2 separate regions of the Homo sapiens genome follow, and region 2 is linked to region 1. The links come from fine-mapping of genetic effects on gene expression. A gene starts in region 1. The other region holds a variant in brackets. All regions are shown on one strand. Distances are between the middles of the regions.

What was found.
Region 2: its variant is fine-mapped to the expression of TBL1X in whole blood (TOPMed, PIP above 0.99). The same link has a PIP of 0.9 or more in blood mononuclear cells and monocytes.

The regions. Positions count from the first base shown.
Region 1 is chrX:9,463,020-9,468,390 of GRCh38, reverse strand. TBL1X (transducin beta like 1 X-linked) reads right to left here and starts at 3,333. Exons shown (of 18, transcript NM_005647.4): 1 at 2,944-3,333. RefSeq lists silencers at 2,358-2,507, 2,808-2,947, 3,068-3,647 and enhancers at 3,878-4,077, 3,905-4,733, 5,108-5,371.
Region 2 is chrX:9,713,943-9,719,313 of GRCh38, reverse strand. TBL1X (transducin beta like 1 X-linked) reads right to left here. Exons shown (of 18, transcript NM_005647.4): 17 at 4,311-4,412; 18 at 1-3,094. The coding sequence ends at 3,068. Among named protein-coding and RNA genes, the nearest start is that of GPR143, 49 kb to the left of the region's middle. The variant T/C (reference allele first, on the strand shown) is at 2,616.

The DNA of each region.
Region 1 (5,371 bases):
TGTCTCCAGACATTGGCAAATGCTCCCTTCAAAAGTGGGGGACAAAACTGTCCCAAATGAGAACCATTAGTTGGCTGCAACATTCCAGAGCTCAACGTTGAAAATACTGTTCCAATAAGCAAGCATCTTTTCTACCTTCATTTCTAAAGCTTCCCTTTCTCCTGAACCCGCCGCCTATCATGCCCCATCTCAAATCTCTCTGATCCCATCGGACAAGAACAAACCTAGACAAGAAAAGGAAGCAGTACCCGACTTCCTCTGAAAACTCAACATATTCTCTCTTCCATCTTAACTTTAAATTTGTTCCAATTCCATTTGTAACGGTTTCCAATTCACTTCTGCAACCTTCAGGCATGCGGTGGATTCTCCCTAAATACTGGATGGCGATGGCTGTGTGGGAGGGGGCCAGCTTGGGAGGCGCAGGCATCTGAAGTCAGGCTCCCGCTGGCCAGGCAGGCAGCAGCCCGGCGGACTCCTTAACGGCTGTCTTTCTCCCCTGGAGATCTGAAACGTCTCTCCTCAGCCTAGGCTCTTTGCCCTTTAGAAACATGTGGACTTCTTCGGCCCCTTCCCATATCCAGCTTTTCTTTTGGTTCTGGTGGGTTTCATGTTTGCCAGTCTGGCCAGCATGGTCCATGTGGTCGAGCCCCACAGAAAGTGAGGGCGGGAGTGGAGGGGGCAAGACCGGAGGTAAAAACTCGAGTCCAGTCTCCGGCTAACTAAAAATAGTTATGGGGGAAAAAAGTTTATCTTTCCAACTAAAAAAAAAAAAGTGTTTACAATATGCCTTTAGTGTTGCTTCCTGGGTGGAACTGATTTTTCAATGCATGTGGTAGTGAAAGATTAACAACTTCTCGGATGTAGCATATTAGGTTTTTTTGCTTTTCCTAAGGGAGGAAAAAAAGCAAATCCAAGGCATCAGGAAAGCAGTGGGAGGATGGTCCTGCCTCGCTGGGCAGAGAAGCTGTGCTGATCAGCTAAGCCAGGAGGCCCACAGGGCACTGCTGCGGGGCAGAGCACCGGAATCTGGACGCCCTGCAGAAAACTGGGAGGGGGCCGGACCCAGGTTCTAGCGGAGGTGTGCTCCTATCCAGCAGGAGTAGATCGGATAATCTGAATTCCTGACCCTCGGGACCTGCTGGAGATGGCCTCCCTCTGCAGGGACCATTTTCCCGCCTCTGTTCGTCACCTTAAAAGGTGAAAAAAAATCTTCTAACTAAGATGATGTTGTACAGAACCAGTGGTACTGATATAATTGATGGGAAAACTCCAGAAATTGAAACATTCACTTCTAAGTATGTCTACAATAAAGTTATTTTTGCAAACTGTTTCCTCTTTAAAACCACTGACAGAGAGAAGTTCTCTGAGGTAAAGGGGCAAAATGCCTGAGAGTTGGGGAGCGAGGGTGGCAGCACTACACCACAAATCTCCATATTTGCCCTACAGGTGTGTGTTCTACTAAGGGCTGGAATCGCCTTAAGGGCCGGTGATCCAGTGATGAACAACTTTTGTTGTTTGCATTAGTTACCCAGCTTGGTGGCTTTCCACAAAAATGTGCAGCACATTTGAGACAGGACTACCCTTTAAAATAAACGCGTCATACTCAACGTTCTTCTGTATTTTATTTTTCCTAATTACATCTTTTCTAGGAAGGACTTGTAAACTTTTCATAAAATCGTCAAGTGCCACTTCCAACACCAAAGCCACTGCCTGGAACCTTAGCAGGGAGGTTGCCTTCCTTCCCCCTCGCCTTCCAGGTTAAACCAGGGACTGGGCGATGTTTCAGGAGAGGAAAACATCCAAAAGGCAGGTCAAACCACACATGACAATGCAAAGCAGAAACAGTTGCAAATACAATAGAGGGTAGGTTTTTGTTTCTTTTTAGGTTTTGCTCCAGAACATCACTGACTCGAGAATAAACGTCAGTCCCTACCTTTGTGGAACGTCCAACGCAGCTGGCTGGGGGAACACGAGGCCTTGCAGGGAGCGAGCCCCGGCCCCGGTCTGACGGAACACAGGCGACGCACGTGAAGTCCAGGCCCTATCCCAGCGCAGGCGGGCCTCCAGCGACCCACAGTTGTCACATATCCGGCCAGCGCCGACTCCCGAAGGCGCACTCCCCATACTCCACTCCGAGCACCGGTCCCATCGTTAGGGAAGGTCCCCCTGGATAGCAAGGCCGGGGCCCAGGATCTGCGAGACCCACCCCACCCGCCCCGTCAGAGCCCAGGAGCAGCAACAGGTCTGCGCTCTCCCCGGGCGGCGCTCTGCAGACCCTCGACGGGCCAAGGGTGCCCCCAGCCCAGCCGTGCGCTCAGGCCGGGGAGATGGGCGGAGGACTGGGGCTCCCGACTTCCTTGACAGTTTCTGCGCGTCAGAAACTGAGCAGACACGGGGCCCGCGCCACCTCGCCCGCCGCTTGCCCCACTCCGCGAGGCTGCGCTTCCACCCGGGTCCGGGAGGGCCGGCCCGCGTCCCGGGTATGAATGGGGCTCTTCTCCCCAACAGCGGGGAAATCCCGCCACCGCCCTCCACCCCGGTCCCCGGAGCCCGCGGTGGCGCAGGTTTGCCCAGCAAGCCCCTGAATCGGCAGACAAAGGGGCACCGGAGGAAAAGCCGAGCGCTTCCCTAAACTTACCGGCCACTTCCCCCTCCCCAAAACAAAGGAGCCCCCCGCCGACCTCCGTCTCTCCCCGCAAGGCGCGCCGGCACTTCGGGGAGCGGCCACCTCGGGGTATTGTTCAGGCTCCTGGGAGCGCGCCGCACCCCAGTCCGAGCGCCGCGGGGACAGTTGGCGACCTGCACCTACAGGAGTTCCAGGGGCGGGTGGAGCGTTCGGGCGCCCCGAGCCGCCGGCCGGACCCTGGAGGGTCAGCGCGGGACCCGCCTCCCCGCAGAAGTTTGCGGACCCCGCGCCCGGCCCGCCGAGCCCTGCGCACTCACCTCGTCGCGAGCAGCGCAACTTGTGGCGGCGCCGCGCGCCCGGCCGCGCTCCGAACCTCCCTCCAGCCGGCAGCCTCCGAGTCCCGGCCGTGCGGCGGCCGAAGAGGGCCCGGCGCCCCGGAGCAGCCGCGCGCCGCCCCCGGGCCGCCCCCGCCCCGCCGCCGCCGAGTCCCGGAGAGAGCGCGGGCGCTGGAAAGTTTCGGTGGCGAATGGCGGCCTGAGGGCGCTGCGGCGGCGGCGGGGCGGGGGCGCTGGCGGCTCCTCGCTCCCAAGCGCGGAGTGGGGGCGCTGAGGCGGGCGCGGCGGCGGCGGCGGCGGCAGCGGGAGAGGGCGGGACAGCGGGAGGGACTGGCACGGACAGTGACCTCCACGGGGAGCTGCCGCGAGCGCGCGGACCCCAGCCAGGAGGACCGCCAGGGGTCCGCCCCCGCCGCCGGCCCCTCCCTCACGGCCGTGGGAGGGGACCCGGCGTACCACCCGGCCCCGCCCCTGCGCCCCGGGGGAGCCGCGTCCCGAACCAGCCCCTCCCCTACGAGGGTAGGGACTCCGGCCCTGCCCCTCCCCCGCGGCTCCTAGTGGGGACCCGCGTCCCAACCCAGCCCCTGTCCCACGGTCGGGGGACCAGCGTCCCTACCAAGCCCGCCCCGCTCCCCCACGCCTAGGGTGGGTGAGGGGAACCCGGGCCTCTCCCTAGTTGCTCTGGTCCCGGTCCCTTCCCCGTGGCCTCCGTGGGACTGAGAGGACCCCAGGGCTACCCCCATCACATCCCAAACCCAGCCTTTCCACGACTGCCTCGAGGGGACGGGAACCTCGGCCACCCCCTCAGTTTCTAGGGGGCAGGGGAACCTCGATCACTGCTAAAGTGTTACCCTCCCCCACCCCAAAAAGGAAGCCACCCGGCTGCCCCAACAGAACCCCCTGCCACCTGCCCGATGGTGAATCTCCCTCAAAATCGGCGTCTTAGAAGACACCCCAGTAGTCTTTACCCCAGCTCAAAAAGTGGGGGTTCCGGCGGAGCCTCGACCTTTGCAAAACACCTCCCAAGAAGAGCCAGAAATGCTTAGGGACAAACTCAGACACACAGGCATAGGCGCCAGGAACTCGGGTGTGGGGGCTGAGGAGGTTGGGGGGACCTGGGCACTCGGGCCTCATCACTCCCACCCCAACCCCCCAGGCATCAGCCCTCTGGCCCTTGCAAAGTGCTTTATGTTGCAATGGCTTACACGGCCTGGCCCCGGTGTACCTAAGTCCCCAGCGCTCCTTCCTCCCCTCCACGTAGGCTACTCCCAACCACTCGCAGCCTTAATTCAGTTAAACAGATCTCCACTCCCCCTCCCCAGCACCTCTGGGGTCAGCCTCGTTGAATATTTTTCAAATATTCTTGCCCCTTCCTTTACTATATAATGAGCTTCGTGCTAAGAGCCCGGTACACTCAGCAATCTAAACTATAACCTCACTTGCTCTTCCTCGAACTCTAGACCATTTGTTGTTCTGGTTGTAGGGGGAGGGGGACCTAAGGTGAGGTTTTTGTTTTTTTGTTTTTGTTTTTGTTTTTCTGAGGAGTCTCGCTCTGTCGCCCAAGCTGGAGTGCAGTGGCGCGCTGTCGGCTCATTGCAACCTCCACCACCCTGGTTCAAGCAATTCCCCTGCCTCAGCCTCCCGAGTAGCTGGGATTACAGGCGCATGCCACCACGCCCAGCTAATTTTTTTTGTATTTTTAGTAGAGACGGGGTTTCACCATATTGGCCAGACTGGTCTGAACTCCTGACCTCAGGCAATCCGCCGGCCTCGGCCTCCCAAAGTGCTGGGATTACAGGCGTGAGCCACCGTGCCCGGCCGGAGGTGAGTTTTTAAGAGGCCGGTCCTCCACCAAAACGGCGGACCTCAAAATTACCCTGCAAAATATTGCTGTAAAACGTCAATGATGCAAAACGACTGTTGCTACACCATCATTAGAGGACATCAATAAAAAAATACACACTTACACAGTCTCCATAATTGTGAATCAGCAGAATAGATTGTGTCTTATTATGTATCAGTTGCCATTCAAGGCCCCCCAGAAGGACATGGTGGGGCCTTCCCTTGAGCCTGCCCTTCGTTGCTCCTGGGCTCCCTGGGCTTGTGCAGACTGATGCTGAGGTATTACATGCAATAGAAAAACGAAGGGTGCAATAGAAAACCCGAACGAGCTCATGATGCAACCCTGCCCTGGCTACACGTGCTTCCCTTCCCCCACCGCCTGCTGGTGGGAGTGCTGCGTTTTTTCCGCCTGTAGGGTCACATTGTGGTTGATTGATTCTCCTTTCGCCTTGCTCAGTCATTCAGATTTGGAAAGTAAATAACAAGTTGACATCATTACAGCTCTGGGCTTTACGCGGACGCAGCCCTCGGCTACCGCACACTCTGGAGTAGCTGCGCAGCCAACCAG
Region 2 (5,371 bases), 250 kb before region 1:
AGAAAGACTAAACAAAAGTCAAGTCCTACGGTGTCGCGAGGGGTCAGAGGGTTTCACCCTGTAACGTCCGGCCCTTTTGGTCCCCCTTGGGGCAGCATCCCTTTCCCAGGTGTGTGCTGGACCTGACTCTCGGTCACTGTGAACCCGACCAAACACTCTAGGAAGGTCTGTCATGCTATGTCTGCTTTCAAGGTCACGTTTGGTCACTAAGACTTAGGCATTCCTCACCATGTTTTAAGAGCTGTAAACAACGTTGAACAATAACATTCCACAGGCCATTTCTTGATTACAGGGATGACTCTACCAACATGCCAGCAGCAGAGAGGGTGAGTAGTGGTGTGCAAATGCTGGAGGCTCTGAAAACGGCTGTCCATGGTGTTGTCCCGCTGAGAACGGGGATGGATATGAAGGGTGCTAGCTGCATCTCGCGCTTGGTTTTGCTTGCGGCCGCAGGCTGGGGAAGCCAGGGATGGAGCCTGGGGTCCGAGGCCTCCCAGCCCAGGTTTCTACCTAACAATTCCGACATGGTTCACATTCATCAAGACTAAAGCCATCCCTCGGGAGAGACCCTGGCTACCGACATTCATGTGAAGATTGTCTAGTGAATTGCTTGCGACACATCCCACCATCGCCATCCCACAGTTGTTACTGGTTTGTCAAGCATAAGCCATGCCCTAACGACAGGCTGGCCTTTGACAGCAGATGTTCTACAGAGATGAGTGCATTTTTATTTGGGTGGGGTAGAGATGGTGTCTTTTGGACCCCAACAAACTGTACTCTAAACTTCACAGAGTCCTTGGGACGGGAAATCATCACCTCATCCAGGGACACTGGCTATCTTCAAAGATGGGTGCGGCGACTCCACATCACTGTGACCTTCTTTGCTAAGTGTTTCGGAAACAGAACACGAATAAAATACTCATCTCAGAACCAGAGCACTTTTTGGTCTTCTGGGACATGAATAATTCACATACCCAAGTGGAGGCCAATCAATGATCTGAGAATGATCAACGCACCCTGGCTTTTGCAGGTGGTCCTGGCACGTTCCAAGTTCCACAGAAGCCCTGACCCTTCCCCGATGGCTGGGTTTTGGCTCCGCAGATGAATGCCACCTTCACAATAACACCGTCTCACTGCTGGAACACACACCAGATTGCACCCTACCCACTGCTGGTGACCCAGCAGCCCCCACGGGCTGGGCCATCTTCCTCAGCCCTTCTGCCCACAGGAAAACCAATGGGAGAAGAGGCCCTTGTCCTTTGGCCTTTTCCCCCTTGCTAATGACAAAAATAAGTCCGTGTCGGGTTATGACAGCAAGCAGATGGAGGTCACCAGATTCACTGAAATGAAGCTCTTCTAGGAACACAAAGCCTTGTTTAATTTTTTAAAAACAGCAAAAAGATTATTTAAAAAAGATCTTTCTCCTAGTCTTCTGTGAGACAAAGAAATTATAAAGATGGCAGAAATTATTAGCGACGTTCTACCTCTATAATTCACGTTCAGGACTGAAAATCTTCCTTCTGCATTCATTTCTGTCAGCGTTAGACTAAGTGACATGCGGGCGCCTCTATGTCAGCTCTGCAAGGACTCGCCAAGCCTGCTCTTGGAGAAATGACCATCGGTCGTTATACGGTTGTGGGAAAGATGTAGCCAACACGCCTAATCCAGCCGAGCAGTCGGTTTCGACGGCTTCTGCAGTACCTTATGGTTCTGCCAATGCTCCCTTGAGGCCAGAGGGCGCGCGGCTCTTCGCTGCTTTCCTGCTGGCTGCCAAGGTGCATACACACCAAAAGATGCGAGGTTCTTCTTCCAGCCGGCATGGCGGGGACCTCCCTCACTGGCTGCAGAGCAATCTCGCTGCTGACCCCGAAGACTGACCCTTGTCCAGCCAGAGTTTTCCTGACCACCTTTCCTGAGGCTGAGGGGAAAGCCAGGGGCTCCCTCAGGCCCTGCCTGTGGCTTCTTCGGTTCTTTTTAAAACATGAATCACACAAAGCTCTCTATGTCTGATGGCCATTTTAAGATTTTAAAATTGTTTTAACATAAAAATATTATTTTTTTTTCCAAAAATACTCCAGGCTCTTTCTCTTATAAGTCATTTTTTTTTCTCCTGTAAAAAGCCCCCCTGCCCTGCCTTCTTACATAAAGCACTTACTACGCGCCAAAGTGCCCTTGAGACCTAAGATCTGAAGCAACTATGAGAAAGGTACAGAGGGAGAGAGAGAGAGAAAGAGAGCACGCCAGTGAGAAAGCGAGCGCGAGCGCGAGCGCAAGGGGAGGAGAGGGTGGGAGAGGGCGGAAGGGGGAAAGCTGTCCGTGGGAGATTGTGTCTTCATGTCCACGGGGCTGCATCTCTTGATGGTGCACTGAAAAAGCAGAGCTCACCAGACAGAGTGGAAAGGCAGGGGGAGGGGCAGGGAGCAACAGAAGGAAGAGACAACAAGCCCAAGACAGCTTCCATCTCAGACGGAAGGCCCCCAGAAGATAGAATTCCAGCCGACTGAAAAACCACCCAATGAACAAAGAAGATTCTAGAAAATAGAAAGTGTTGGGATTACAAAGTTGCGCGTTTCATCGGTACAAACTGGTCTTTGAACCTCCTTTGTGAGAGCAAT[T/C]GTAGTGTCCAAATTGTTAGGGAAAACAAAAAAAAAAAATCCCAAGGAGGAGGGTTTTTCCCCCTTCCCTGTTTGGTTTATCACAGCATTTTGCTTTTTTTTTGGCACAGCTTTTTACGTTTCTTTCCATTCAGCCATCACAGAGCCTGTTCCGGGTGGAAACCAATCCACACGCCTCGAGCTGGTGACTTCCTCCTTCCCAGGCTGAATGTCCTCAGTGGAAACCATTCTATCCCCGTTTGATATGATTTGCTTCTGTTTTTGCTTGCCTTTTAAAAACTTCTTGATGAAGATTACGAAAACATATAGACTCCTGCGGCCAGAGACGAGTTGGTTTCAGAGTACACTCTAACGCAAGTCAAGTTCCTACAGTTTTGGAGAATAGAGCTGCAACCCTACACATTCACGGCTGGTCATTAGAATTCTTTTCTTTTTTCGATAATATTTTGTGGTTACTTCCGCAGATCCAAAACACACACCTGGAAGGAAAGATAAAGCACCTGTCATCTTGAGAGACAATACAAAGATGCCTTTAGAGTGAGAAGTCGGCAAGCTACGGCCCCCACGCCCAATCTAGCCCTCCACCGATGTTTGTCAGTAAAGTTTATTGGAACATCGTCATGAAGGGTCAGAGAAGCTCTCATAACAGACTGGCATCTGGACATCGGACCGAGCAAACTGAAGCAAACAGCACAGAGCAGAAAGGCCAGGTTAAGGGTAATGATAGGAATTAACAGAGTGGCAGAGGTCCCAGAAGGGACACCTGCAATCGTGGGGCAGATGACAATACGAGCCCAAGTACACAGCCTCTGACAACATTTGGGGACTACTCTGACCCTTGGCCGTTCAGCCAGAACGGCCGCTTGCCCCAGAGGTCAGGGCAACCTCAAGTCCAGGGGAAAATAAGAAATCCAGATGCCCCATGGGAAGAGAAGAGGGCCCAGGAGACCTGCAGGATGGCCACCAGAGGCCCGGGCTTCTCAGCCACAGCATGGGTGACAATTGTGGCCACCCTGTGCACAGTAGGAGGTTTAGCAGCATCCTCATCTAAGCACAGTCACGCGTCACATAATGACGTTTCCAGCAACAACGCACCGCACAGACCGCAGTGGTCCTGTAAGATTATAACCATATATCTGCTGAACCTTTTCTATGTTTAGATAGATCCGGACGCACAAATGCTTACCATTGTGTTCTGGTTGCCTACAGGAATCAGTATGGTCACCCGCTGTCCAGGTTTGTAGCCTGGGAGCAATAGGCTGTACCACACAGCCTCGGTGTGGGACAGGTATTATCATCTAGGTTTGTGTCAGTCACTCTATGATGTTCAGACAAAGATAAAAGTGCCTAATGACACATTTCCCAAAACGTTCCCGTCATTAAGCGACACATGACTGTAGTGACAACCTAAAATGGCTCCAGATATTGTCTAATGTCCTTAGAGGTGCAGAATCACCCTGGTTGAGAACCACCAATTTGACTGAGAAAATGTTGACTAGAAGGACACTCTGGAAGGGACAAGGAGAAGGCCATTCCCAGATGTGGTACCAACTCCGATGGGATCCAGCCCAGAAGCTTCCTTTGGCACTGGGCTAGGCCCTTCAGGACACGAATGCTGCACACGCCCTGGAAGCTCACTTAGGCATCAGCTGCCCCCAACACCCCACTCCCCAGCAAACCAGAGGTGTTGCTTACAGAGCCGTCGGACGCGCTGGCACCCACTTTGTCTCCTCGGGCGTTCCAGCACACCTCGAAGATGCCGCCAGTGCCTCGGTAGCTGTGGACAAGATTTCCACTCTGCAAAGCAAAGCAGCTGTCACTTACAACGCAAGGGGCGCCTGCGACAGATGCAGGTGTGGAATGTGCGCTCCTCCGGCCCTGACGTTTCGTCATGAACATTTTCAAGCATGGTGAAATTTAAGGGTTTTCAGTAAGGACTCTGGGGGCCATGGAGATGTGCCTCTAGGACTTCCCACCACGAGGAGTGAACCTGATTACTTATGCCTGCGGAATCTGCCACATTTGCGTGGATTCTGAGGCTGCACCCAGCTGAGGACTGATGGAGGCGGGAGACCATGGCAGTCACCTGCTGAGACTCAGACTCATCTGGTGGGTAAGTGGCTCATGGACTCTCCATCAGCACGACCAAAACTTTCTACAGACCTGTAAGGGCCATCCCTGACTCTTCCTACCCTTCCCGTCTCCTTCCCAGGGTCAGACTGGCCTTATGGTCTGAATTCTCCCTTCCCCCTACCTTCCTCCCTGTTTCCATCACAGCTCTTTCCCCCAATAAATCTCTCGCCCATCTAATCCTGTTCTGGTGTCTGTTCTTTGGAGGACCTGAATGAATACAACATAATGAATACACCCACCCCAGTAGCAATTAAATTGACTGTAATTCATGATTAAATGTAATAATATGCCATGACATTAAAATGTACGTATTTTTGGACATTTGAAAGAAGAAATGCATAATATACATGTAATGGAAAACACCACAGACCATTGGTTTCCGGTTTAAAACAGCATTAACTTGACAAATCTAAGAGGTAGGGGAAGTTGAGGCCTTTGAAAGAGTTGAATAAGGCCAGGCGAGGTGGCTCACCCTGTAATCCCAGCACTTTGGGAGGCCGAGGCGGGAGGACGGATTGAGCCCAAGAGTTCAAGACTAGCCTGGGCAACACAGTGAGACTTCGTCTCTACAAAAATTAATTTTAAAAAATAAAAAAGAGAGAAAGAGTCGAATAAGCCTTCAC